Regions from separate parts of the Homo sapiens genome. Here region 1 is linked to region 2. The links come from fine-mapping of genetic effects on gene expression. A gene starts in region 2. The other region holds a variant in brackets. All regions are shown on one strand. Distances are from middle to middle. Region 1 overlaps ZNF528-AS1 (ZNF528 antisense RNA 1). Region 2 holds the start of ZNF880 (zinc finger protein 880).

Region 1 (5,378 bases), 22 kb after region 2:
ACAGCTCCTCTCCTGGCTGCTTTCACAGGCTGGTGTTGTGTCTGCTACTTTTCCAGGCACATGGTGCAAGCTGTCGGTGAATCTACCATTCTGGGGTCTATAGGAGGGTGGCCCTTTTCTCACGGCTGCACTAGGCGAGTAGTGAGTAGTCTGTGTGGGGGCTCCAACCCCACATTTTACTTCTGCACTGCTCTAGCAGAGGTTCTCCATGAGGGCTCCGCCCCTGCAGCTCACCTCTGCTCCAGTTCCAATAAAGTTCCTCATCTCCATCTGAGACCACCTTCAGCCTGGACTTTTTGGTCAGAACCATTCAACAACCATTTTCTAGGAAGCTCCAAACTTTCCCACGTCTTCCTGTCTTCTTTTGAGCCCTCCAAACTGTTCCAGCCTTTGCCTGTTACCCAGTTCAAAATTTGCTTCCACATTTTGAGGTATCCTTATAGCAGCACCCCACTCTATACCATTACCAATTTACTGTATTAGTCTGTTCTCACGCTGCTAATAAAGAAATACCCGAGACTGGGTAATTTATGAAGACAAAGAGGTTTAATGGACACAGTTCCATGGGGTCGTGTCCCCCGTGCTTCTGCCACAGGGCCATATAGACAGCTCTTATCGCGGAGTTTTCCTGCCTCAAATCCTTCAGTGTCCCCTGCACTGGCCCGCACCTTTTTTAAAGTCCTCACCGCAAGGTTGATTCCCGCCCTGGGAGCTTCCCATCTGCTCCGCTCCCTCGTCAGCTCCTGGAGCGCAGCGACGCAGCCCCAGTCCCAGGGAGGCCGTGAACTCTTCCTGGTCCTGGGATCCTGCAGACCCTGCCCCTCTCCTGACTTTCTCCTGCCTTTTTCCTCCTTGATCGGGGGCCCTTCTGCTCCCCAGGCCTCCCCTTCTCCTGATATCGAGTGTGGGGACGTGACTTCTATCTCAGGACGTTAAGGTTTCTCTTGTCCCAAATTCCATCCCACAGGAAATGGGCTCTTGAGGTGGGGATCTGACTGCAGTCCCCTCCCTATGAATGTGTGGAGGAGAGGAAATAGAAAAATGGTGAAATGGGAAAGAAGAATGAAGGAGACCCATAAACAGACGGCAGCTGGGTGCGATGGCTCACGCCTGTAATTCCAGCACTTTGGGAGGCTGAGGCGGGCAGATCACCTGAGGTCAGGAGTTTTGAGACCAGCCTGACCAACATGGAGAAACCCTGTCTCTAAAAAATACAAAATTAGCCAGGCATGGTGGCGAATGCCTGTAATCCCAGCTACTCTGGAGACTGAGGCAGGAGAATCGCTTTTACCCGGGAGGCGGAGGTTGCGGTGAGCCAAGATCGCACCATTGCACTCCAGCCTGGGCGACGAGCAAAACTCCATCTCAAAAAACAAAAAACAAAACAAAACAGATGGCAAAGTAGATGGTGGATGAGGGATTTGCAGAGACAGTGCATGAAGATGCTGAGAAAGGAGCAGGGGGAGAAAAGCAACTAGAGAAATTTAGAGAAAAACTGGGTTTCTAGAGAGATAAAGTTCAGCAAGATAGGGAGAGGGGCAGAAAAGGGGAGGCTCCTCAGATGGAGAGTTGGGGAGAGAAGGAGGGATTTGGAGCCAGGGCAGACAGAGCAGCATGGTGCTGGGAGAGCAAGAGGGGCAGCCAGTGATAAGGAGAGCACAGGGAGAACCACAGCCTGGGGAGAACTGGGATCTGGGGATGCCAGAGAGGGGACAGGTGGATATAGCAGGGAAGAGGGGATTTAACAGGGGAAGCTAGGGGGCAGCAGAGACGGGGGGAAGAAAGAGGCAGAACTATATGAAAATTGGAGACAAATATTGGGCAGAAAGAAGAATAAGAGGTGAAAGAAGTGAGAAAGGAGCAGAACAAGTGGAAGAGAAGGAATAGAGGGAAGAGCAGGAGAAGGAAGAAGGGCTTGAAATGAGGAGAATCCTAGGGGAAAAATAAAGAGAAAAAAAAAGCTAGGAAAAGAAGGTGAGAATGAGAGGTAGGTAGAGAAACACACAGTAATGAGGAAAGAGGGGGACACTCAATCCAGATGAATGATGAATTGATTGGATATTATGATTAATTTCTCTATAATAAACATCACATTTGTTTAAAATATACAGATGAAGATGAGAATTGGAAAACTGTCTATAAGGCATGTGCATTTCCTAATTCTTGGTATCAGAGGTTAGCTTCCATTTGCTGTCCTTATTCTGCCAGACGGCAGGCAGTGACTTGACTCATTCAGGTATGGGTCACTATCTTCACTTCTGGGATGGGGTAGGGTGTGTGAGTGTATAAGATAGGAGGAAAAACCAAAGTGTTTTTTCTACTCACAATCAACACAATAGTGAATGCTCAACACAGAATGCCTCATCTCCGGTCATCAAAATGTGTGGGGATTACTTCCCACCAACAAGCTATTTTTCATCAGATAAAAACTGGGTGTTCTCTAATTGAACTCAATTTGACACCATTTATAGGGAGTTAGCATTAGATCTCACAGGAGGCTGAGGGCTCAGTTGCACAAAACTGCCCCCAGAATTTGCTATTGCTAGAGTGATTTACACAACTTGGAGAAACAATTTACTGAGGTGTACCATTTGTTATAAAGGATGTTACACAGGACACAGATCAACAGCCAGATGGAAGAGCATTCCTAATAAATTAATGGAAACAGAAGTATGTTTTGGAAACCATGGACTGACTTTCTTTCTCTTTCTCTCTTTCCTTCCTCCCTTTCTCTCTCTCTTTCTTTTCTTTCACTTTGACGGAGCCTCGCTCTGTCACCCAGGCTAGAGTGCAGTGGTGCTATCTCAGCTCATTGCAACCGCCACCTCCCGGGTTCAAGTGATTCTCCTGCCTCAGACTCCCAGGGAGCTGGGATTACAGGCGTCCACCACCAAACCTGGCTAATTTTTATATTTTTAGTAGAGACAGCATATTGCCACGTTGGCCAGGCTGGTCTCGAACTCCTGACCTCAAGTGATCTGCCTGCCTCGGCATCCCAAAGTGCTGGGATTACAGGCCTGGGCCACTGCACCCAGCCCAGGGCTTGAGTTTTAAAGGTGCCACAGTACACCTTGGTTCTCTTTTTTTATAAACAGGAATCTGTCTTCCTGACCTGAGTATTATCTCTATGTGGGAGCAAAGGAGAGAGCCCTGGACTCTGGAGAGTGAAGGGAAAATAGCAAAAAAATCCAGATGGGAGGGAATGGATCAAAGGTGTGAACACAGGTAAGAGCTCAGATGGGCAGAGTGGAAGCTGTATATATATAT[A/AT]TATTTTTTGAGAGACAGGGTCTTGCTCTGTTAGCCAGGTTGGAGTGCAGTGGCAATCATAGCTCACTGCAGCCTGGAACTCCTGGGCTCAAGTCATCCTCCTTCCTCTGCCTCCCAAACTGGTGGGATTACAGGTGTGAGCCACTGCACCCTGCAAAGCCACACTAATAAATAGTGTTTGGGAAACTCTGCAACTGGGAGAATTCTGTGGAAAACCAATAGTATAAATCCTGTTAGTTTTTTTTTTTTTTTTCTTTTCTGAGACAGAGTCTCACTCTGTTGCCCAGGCTGGAGTACAGTGGCGCAATCTCGGCTCACTGCAACCTCTGCCTCCCAGGTTTAAGCTAGTCTCCTGCCTCAGCCTCCTGAGTAGCTGGGATTACTGGTGCCTGCCACCATCCTTGGCTAATTTCTGTATTTTTAGTAGAGAGAGGGTTTCACCAAGTTGGCCAGGCTGGTCTCGAACTGCTGTCCTCATTTGATCTGCCCGCCTCAGCCTCCCAAAGGGCTGGGATTACAGGTGTGAGCCACCATGCCTGGCCTAAATCCTGTTAGTTTTGAATGGAAATTTTCTTTCTTTCTTTTTTTTTTTTCTGGGACAGATTCTTGCTTCGAGACAATGACAAATACAAACTAGGTTTACTGTAAATATGAGAAAGGGAAAAAATACTTTTATTGTATTAGAAGACTTGAAATCACATGAAGTGATACCAATCTTTTGTTGTTGTTGGTCAGATGTTTTAGCTATTTTAGGTGTTTGGGTTTTTTGTCTTTCTACATAACTGCTAACCTTGTTAGTATCTGCAGAATGCCTTAATTAGGAAAGGTATTAACCCTATGTGTCAGATTTGTATAATTCATATTGCTTTACATGGAGTCTTCCAATAAATGTATATGGTATATGTCTCTATTTGCTGTCTTTGATTTCTTTTATCAGCATTTGGTAGTTGTAACATAACAGTTCTATGAATGTTTTGTTTCACATGTATTTCTTTGCCCCCCCCCTTTTTTTTTTTTTTTTTTTGAGACGGAGTCTTGCTCTGTCGCCCAGGCTGGAGTGCAGTGGCGCGATCTCAGCTCACTGCAAGCTCCGCCTCCTGAGTTCACGCCATTCTCCTGCCTCGGCCTCCCCAGTAGCTGGGACTACAGGCACCCGCCACCACACCTGGCTAATTTTTTTGTATTTTCTTAGTAGAGATGGGGTTTCACCGTGTTAGCCAGGATAGTCTCGATCTCCTGACCTCGTAGTCCACCTGCCTTGGCCTCCCAAAGTGCTGGGATTACAGGTGTAAGCCACTGCACCCGGCCTCTTTGACCTTTTTCTTAATGGAGCAATCATACATAGTATTTTATTTTTAATATCAGGTTTCATGTGCAAATTGCTAGTGTATAGAAATATACAAGATTATTATTATTATTATTTTGAGACAGGGCCTTACTCTGTCATCCTGGCTGGAGTGCAGTGGAGCAATCTCAGCTACTGCAACCTGTGTCCTGCAGGCTTAAGTCATCCTCCCACCTCAGCTTCCCCAGTAGCTGGCACTGCAGGCATGTGCCACCATGGCCTGTTAAATTTTTGTGTTTTGTAGAGATGGGGTTTCACCATGTTACCCAGCCTGGTCTCAAACTCCTGAGCTTGAGTGATCTGCCTGCCTTGGCCTCCCAAAGTGCTGGGATTACAGGCACGAGCCACCATGCCTGGCTGATGAAATATACGATATTTTTGTAGGTTGACCTTATACTTTGCTACCTTTACATTTTTCTTGTTCTAGAGATTTTTGTAGATTTTTTTGGAATTTTCTACATAAAATCATTTCATCAGTTTCCTATTGCTATACACAGTGATTGGCTTAAAACAAGAAAAATTTATTCTTTTATAATTCTGTAAGTCACATATCTAATATGGGTCCATAGTTCTGTGATTCTTCATTAATCTCCAGGGGAGAATTTGTTTCCTTACCCTTTGTAGGTTCCAGAGGCCACTTACATCCTTTGACTCATGGTCCACTTCCTCCATCTTTAAAGGTGAGAAAAAAAATCTCTTTATCCCTCTATTTTCAACACATCACCACTGTCTCTGTCCCTTCGCATCCACCTGCACCCTTCTGATA
Region 2 (5,378 bases):
GTGTGAATGAATTACATCCTTTCTACCAGCGTTGTTTAATCTTACCTCAGGAGGATACTTTATAGTAGAGAATAATAACCCATTATGATTTTAAGGTTGAAGCAGCCAGAAAAGTGTGTGTGTGTGTATGTGTGTGAGACATAAAACAACATACGCTTCTGGGTGCAATATACTTAAGTAAGTATGATGTTGAGTAATTACACTTAGTACTTGAGTTAGTTTCTCTGTACTCTGGTGTAGGATGTTTATGTGGGTAAAGTCAAAATCACTTTAATAGTACAATTTCAGCCTTGTACACCCTCAAATGTGTGTGAGTGTTAAAGAGTATGCCCTGTATTGTGTTTCTACATGCCTCTTTCTTGTGTGCCAAATAAGAACTATGGTGTGCACCTTCATTTTCATGCAGCAAAAATATATAGTAATATGACAAATATTAGGAAATAAAGTATGGGTTGAGGGCAAAAATACTGTAACATGGCCGGGCCTGGTGGCTCACGCCTGTAATCTCAGCACTTTGGGAGGCTGCATTGGGTGGATCACGAGGTCAGGAGATTGAGGCCATCCTGGTCAACATGGTGAAACCTTGTCTCTACTAAAAATACAAAAAAAAAAAATTAGCTGGGCCTGGTGGTGTGCACCTGTAATCCCAGCTACTTGGGAGGCTGAGGCAGGAGAATCGCTTGAACCCAAGAGGCAGAGGTTGCAGTGAGCTGAGATCACCCCACTGCACTCCAGCCTGGTGACAGAGCAAGGCTCCGTCTCAAAAAAAAAAAAATAATAATAATACTGTAACACAATTTCTTTTTGTACTTCTAGTGTTCAGTGACATCATTTGAAAATATTAATGTTCACCCATCTTCTTTTTAAGTCACACACAGAAAGGGAATTTTGTTTTGGTACATTAACTAGAAACTTCATATAGTCACCCTCACAACTCTTTTGGTAATTTGAATTTTTGACCACTCTTCTGGAACTTGTTTGAAGTCCCCCTAAGGTTTGGCTTGGATCTTGAGAATGATGATCCCATACACTGATATGGTTTGAGAGTGTTTATTATATAATGAGGCTCTGTGGGGGAAAGCAGGGTATACTTTTCCAGCTGGTCCAAAAGTGGCTTCAGAGAACTGGGATAGGTGACTGGCTTGGGGTGTCATGATTGCTAAAGGGTAGGGCTGGGGCGGGGATACCCACTACCCATACTGGAAACTTAGTTACAATTCACACCTAGCATGTATATTTTTATATTTTTTGTATGTATATATATTTTTACATTTTTTTCCTACATTGCCTCCAAATTCTATGTTTAATACATTTCTTCCCTGTTTTGCTCTGGTGAAAACTTTAGGGGACAAATAAATGAGTGCTGTTTGGAGACAAAATTTTGTGACATGGGACTGGGCATTGTGGCGTGTGCCTGTAGTCCCAGCTACTTGGGAGGCTGAGATGGGAGGATCACTTGATGCCAGGAGGTCGAGGCTGCAGTCAGTGAGCTGTCTGCACTTCAGCCTGAAAGACAGAGGGAGACCATCTCAAAAAAAAAAAAAAAAAAAAAAAAAAAGTTGTGACCTGAGTATGTCCATAAGACAATGGCAGGTATACACTAGGATTAATATAAATATGAAAAAAAAAAAAAAACTTGGCCGGGTGCGGTGGCTCACGCCTGTAATCCCAACATTTTGGGAGGCCAAGGCAGGCGGATCACGAGGTCAGGAGTTCAAGACCAGCCTGGCCAACATGGAGAAACCCTGTCTCTATTAAAAGTACAAAAAAGTAGCCCGGTGTGGTGGTGGGCGCCTGTAATCCCAGCTACTCGGGAGACTGAGGCAGGAGAATCGCTTGAACCCAGGCGGCGGAGGTTGCAGTGAGCCGAGATCGCGCCACTTCACTCCAGCCTGGGCAAAAGAACGAAACTCTGTCTCCAAAAAAAAAAAAAAAAAAAAAAGGAAATTGCACATTCCGCCCTGGCAGGGTTTTGCATTTCATATTTTAATTTGCATCCCCTTCATAAACAATTCAAGGACTTTAAAATTCCGGAAACTAGTGTTTATTATTCATTTATATTTATTTATTTTAATTATTTATTTCCAATTTGTTATTTATGATTATGTATTTATTAGGCGCAAGGTTTCTCTCTCATGCCCAGGCGGGAGTGCAGCGCACGACCTCGGCTCACTGCAGCCTCCACCTCATGGGCTCAAGCGATCCTCCCACCTCAGCATCCGGGTAGCTAGGACCACATGCGAGCGCCCCTACAGCCGATTTAAAATTAATTTTAATAGCAGGAATTTTCCTGGATCTAATCATCAACAAACTTTCCCTCTGCCGGGACACAATCTATTTCCAGATAGCTGAGTTCTTCCAGTCTCCACGGCAGGTCTAGCCTCCAAAACGAGACGAGCTGGGAGCGAGGCGGAGGGAAGCGCAGGCTCCGCCCAATCCCACCCGGGCCTGGCCTCGCCTCGCCTCTCAGCTGCGCGCGCAGTTTCCTGGAGACCCGGAAGCAGATTACGTGGAGTGACGGTCATGCTGCGGCGTGTGAGTTTCCCTTTGTTTAGATTAAATCTGGGATGCTGAGTCCCCTCGCGCTTCTGTACCCGGCATCTCAGGGGTCACACAGACCTTGAAATCCCCGCATCGCTCCCTCCACCCCGACTAAACTCAGACGTTCTAATGAGAGTCTGGCGGTCGCTTCCCTGAGTGTTAAAATCGCTCGGAGGCTGGTCCTGTCCCCGGTCTTTCACCACAGGGCCATGTAGACAGCTCCTGTCGCGGAGTTTGCCTGCTTCAAATCCTTCAGTGACCCCTAGACACGGCCCGCGCTGCGTAAAGTTCTCACCCGCGAGATGGATCCACGTCTTTCCGGTCCCCCAAGCCTCGCCCTCTTTTCACAGGCCTGCCCCCTTTTCTGTGCCTTAAATGAGAGGAAATCGATCTGATGTTTACTGCTGATTGTGATGTTTCAGCCTCCATTGGGCTTTTGCTAACACCTAAATAAATATTTAGTGGACAAAATTAGGTTAGTGCAAAAGTAATGGCAAACCGCGATCACTTTTGCACCAACCTAATATTTATGGGCCGGGGCTGGAATTCCATCTTCTCCGGAGGCCCAGGCTGGAGAATTCCTTGAGCACAGGAGTTTGAGACCACTCTGGACAACATAGTGAGACCCCCATCTCAATTTTTGAAACATATGTTTCAGTACGGGTATTTAATAGAGATTGGAATTCTCGTTTCTATGTTTTTACATGGTCTGACTTTTTGAAATAGTTTGAAATAATGTTTATAAACTGAATTGAGCACAGTTTATACATTTTTATTGTTGCAAACATGCTGAAATGCACATTTGCAAAAACAACGACAGCCAGGCACAGTGGTGCACGCTTGTCATTCGAGTTACTCGGAGAGGGTGTCATTTGAGGCCAGGAATTCAAGGCTGTAGTGTGCCATGAATAAGCCACTGCACTGCAACCTGGACACATTAAAAAACGAACAAAGACAAATATCTAAAAAAGAGGTTATTGACAGACAACTCTTTCAGTTGTCACATATATGTTTACTAGAGTATATGTGTGTGAATGTATATATGTATATGAATAAGTGTGTACATGTGATGTGTGTGGATGAGTGCACAGATGAGCAAGTCTATTGTTTTTATCAAAGGCGCATCATCAGTTTATATACGTCTTATATCTTTTAACAGTTGAAATTACATCTTATATATTTTCATGACCTTAAAATTGTTCTACACTGTTATGATAGTGAGTCTATGGCTGTAAGGATAGTAACCTGTTATGGGGATACATGTGCGACAGTTTCTTGATTTTAATCCCGGAACTTATTTTAACTATACTCAGTTAGGTCATTGTCTGTCAATTTACTTTTGATGCTGATCTGTTATTGTTTGATGTTTTTTTTTTTCTTTTTCTGAGATGGAGTCTCTCTTTGTCACCCAGGCTGGAGTCTCGCTTTGTCACCCAGGCTGGAGTGCAGTGGCACCATCTCAGGTCACTGCAAACTCTGCCTCCCGGGTTCAAGTGATTGTCCTGCCTCGGCCTCCCAAGTAGCTGGGATTACAGGTGCCCACCAGTACGCCTGGCTAATTTTTTTATTTTCGGTAGAGATGGGGTTTCACCATGTTTGCTAGGCTGGTCTTCAACTCCTGACCTCAAATGATCCACCTGCCTTGGCCTCCCAAAGTGCTGGGATTGCAGGCATGAGCCACCACGCCTGGCCTAATTCTTAAAGTTTGATTCTAATGCCCAGACTCCTGGGATCTGGCGCTTACTCTGCCATTTTTAGCCTTCACACCTGGGGCAAGTTTCTTAGAATGTCTGAGAAAGAGTTGTCTCTTCAATAGGATGGGAACAGATTGTTCTTTTATGGGCTTTTGTTGTTATAGCCGTTAGTACATGTACAACATTTAGAAAGTGCCTGTCACATGGGAGGTGTTCAAAAGCTTCATCCTGGCTGGGTGAGGTAGCTTACGCCTGTAATCCCAGCACTTTGGGAGGCCGAGGCGGGAGGATTGCTGAGGTCAGGAGTTCAAGACCAGCCTGACCAACATAGTGAAAACCTGTCTCTACTAAAAATAGAAAAATTAGCTGGGCACAGTGGTGGGTGCCTGTAGTCCCAGCTACTCGGGAGGCTGAGGCAGAAGAATCACTTGAACCTGGGAGGCGGATGTTGCAGTGAGCCAAGATTGTGCCACTGCACTCCAGCCTGGGCAATAAAGTGAGACTCCATCTAAAAAAAAATTATATATATTGTATCTGACGCTTCTATAGAAATAACTGTGGGTTAATTTTTTGTATTTCTTATGTTGTCCACAAAATTAGAAATCTCTACTAATTTTTTTTTTTTTTGGAGACAGAGTCTCGCTCAGTTGCCCAGGCTGGAGTGCAGTGGCACCATCTCGGCTCACTGCAAGCTCCGCCTCCCAGGTTCACGCCATTCTCCTGCCTCAGCCTCACGAGTAACTGGGACTACAGGCGCCCGCCACTACGCCTGGCTAATTTTTTTGTATTTTTAGTAGAGACAGGGCTTCACCATGTTAGCCAGGATGGTCTCGATCTCGTGACCTCATGATCCACCCGCCTTGGCCTCCCAAAGTGCTGGGATTACAGGTGTGAGCCACCGCGCCCGGCCTAGAAATCTATACTAATTTAAAGAATATCAGGTTGGGCATGCAGTGGCTCATGCCTGTAATCCCAGCACTTTGGGAGGCCGAGGTGGGCGGATCACGAAGTCAGGAGATCGAGACCATCCTGTGTAACATGGTGAAACCGCATCTCTACTAACAATACAAAAAAAAAAAAAAATTAGCTGGGCGTGGTGGCGGGCGCCTGTAGTCCCAGCTACTCGGGAGGCTGAGGCAGGAG

What was found. PIP is the estimated chance that this variant, and not a neighbour inherited with it, causes the effect.
Region 1: its variant is fine-mapped to the expression of ZNF880 in anterior cingulate cortex (GTEx, PIP above 0.99).

What each region holds. Positions count from the first base shown.
Region 1 is chr19:52,389,564-52,394,941 of GRCh38, forward strand. It overlaps ZNF528-AS1 (ZNF528 antisense RNA 1), which reads right to left. Exons shown (of 7, transcript NR_125345.1): 6 at 5,228-5,284. It also overlaps a transcript of ZNF880 not described here. Among named protein-coding and RNA genes, the nearest start is that of ZNF528-AS1, 5.5 kb to the right of the region's middle. The variant A/AT (reference allele first, on the strand shown) is at 3,268.
Region 2 is chr19:52,367,443-52,372,820 of GRCh38, forward strand. ZNF880 (zinc finger protein 880) reads left to right here and starts at 2,481. Exons shown (of 4, transcript NM_001145434.2): 1 at 2,481-2,535. The coding sequence starts at 2,524. ZNF610 (zinc finger protein 610) reads left to right here. Exons shown (of 6, transcript NM_001161425.2): 6 at 1-336. RefSeq lists enhancers at 2,163-2,462, 2,473-2,582, 2,783-2,922.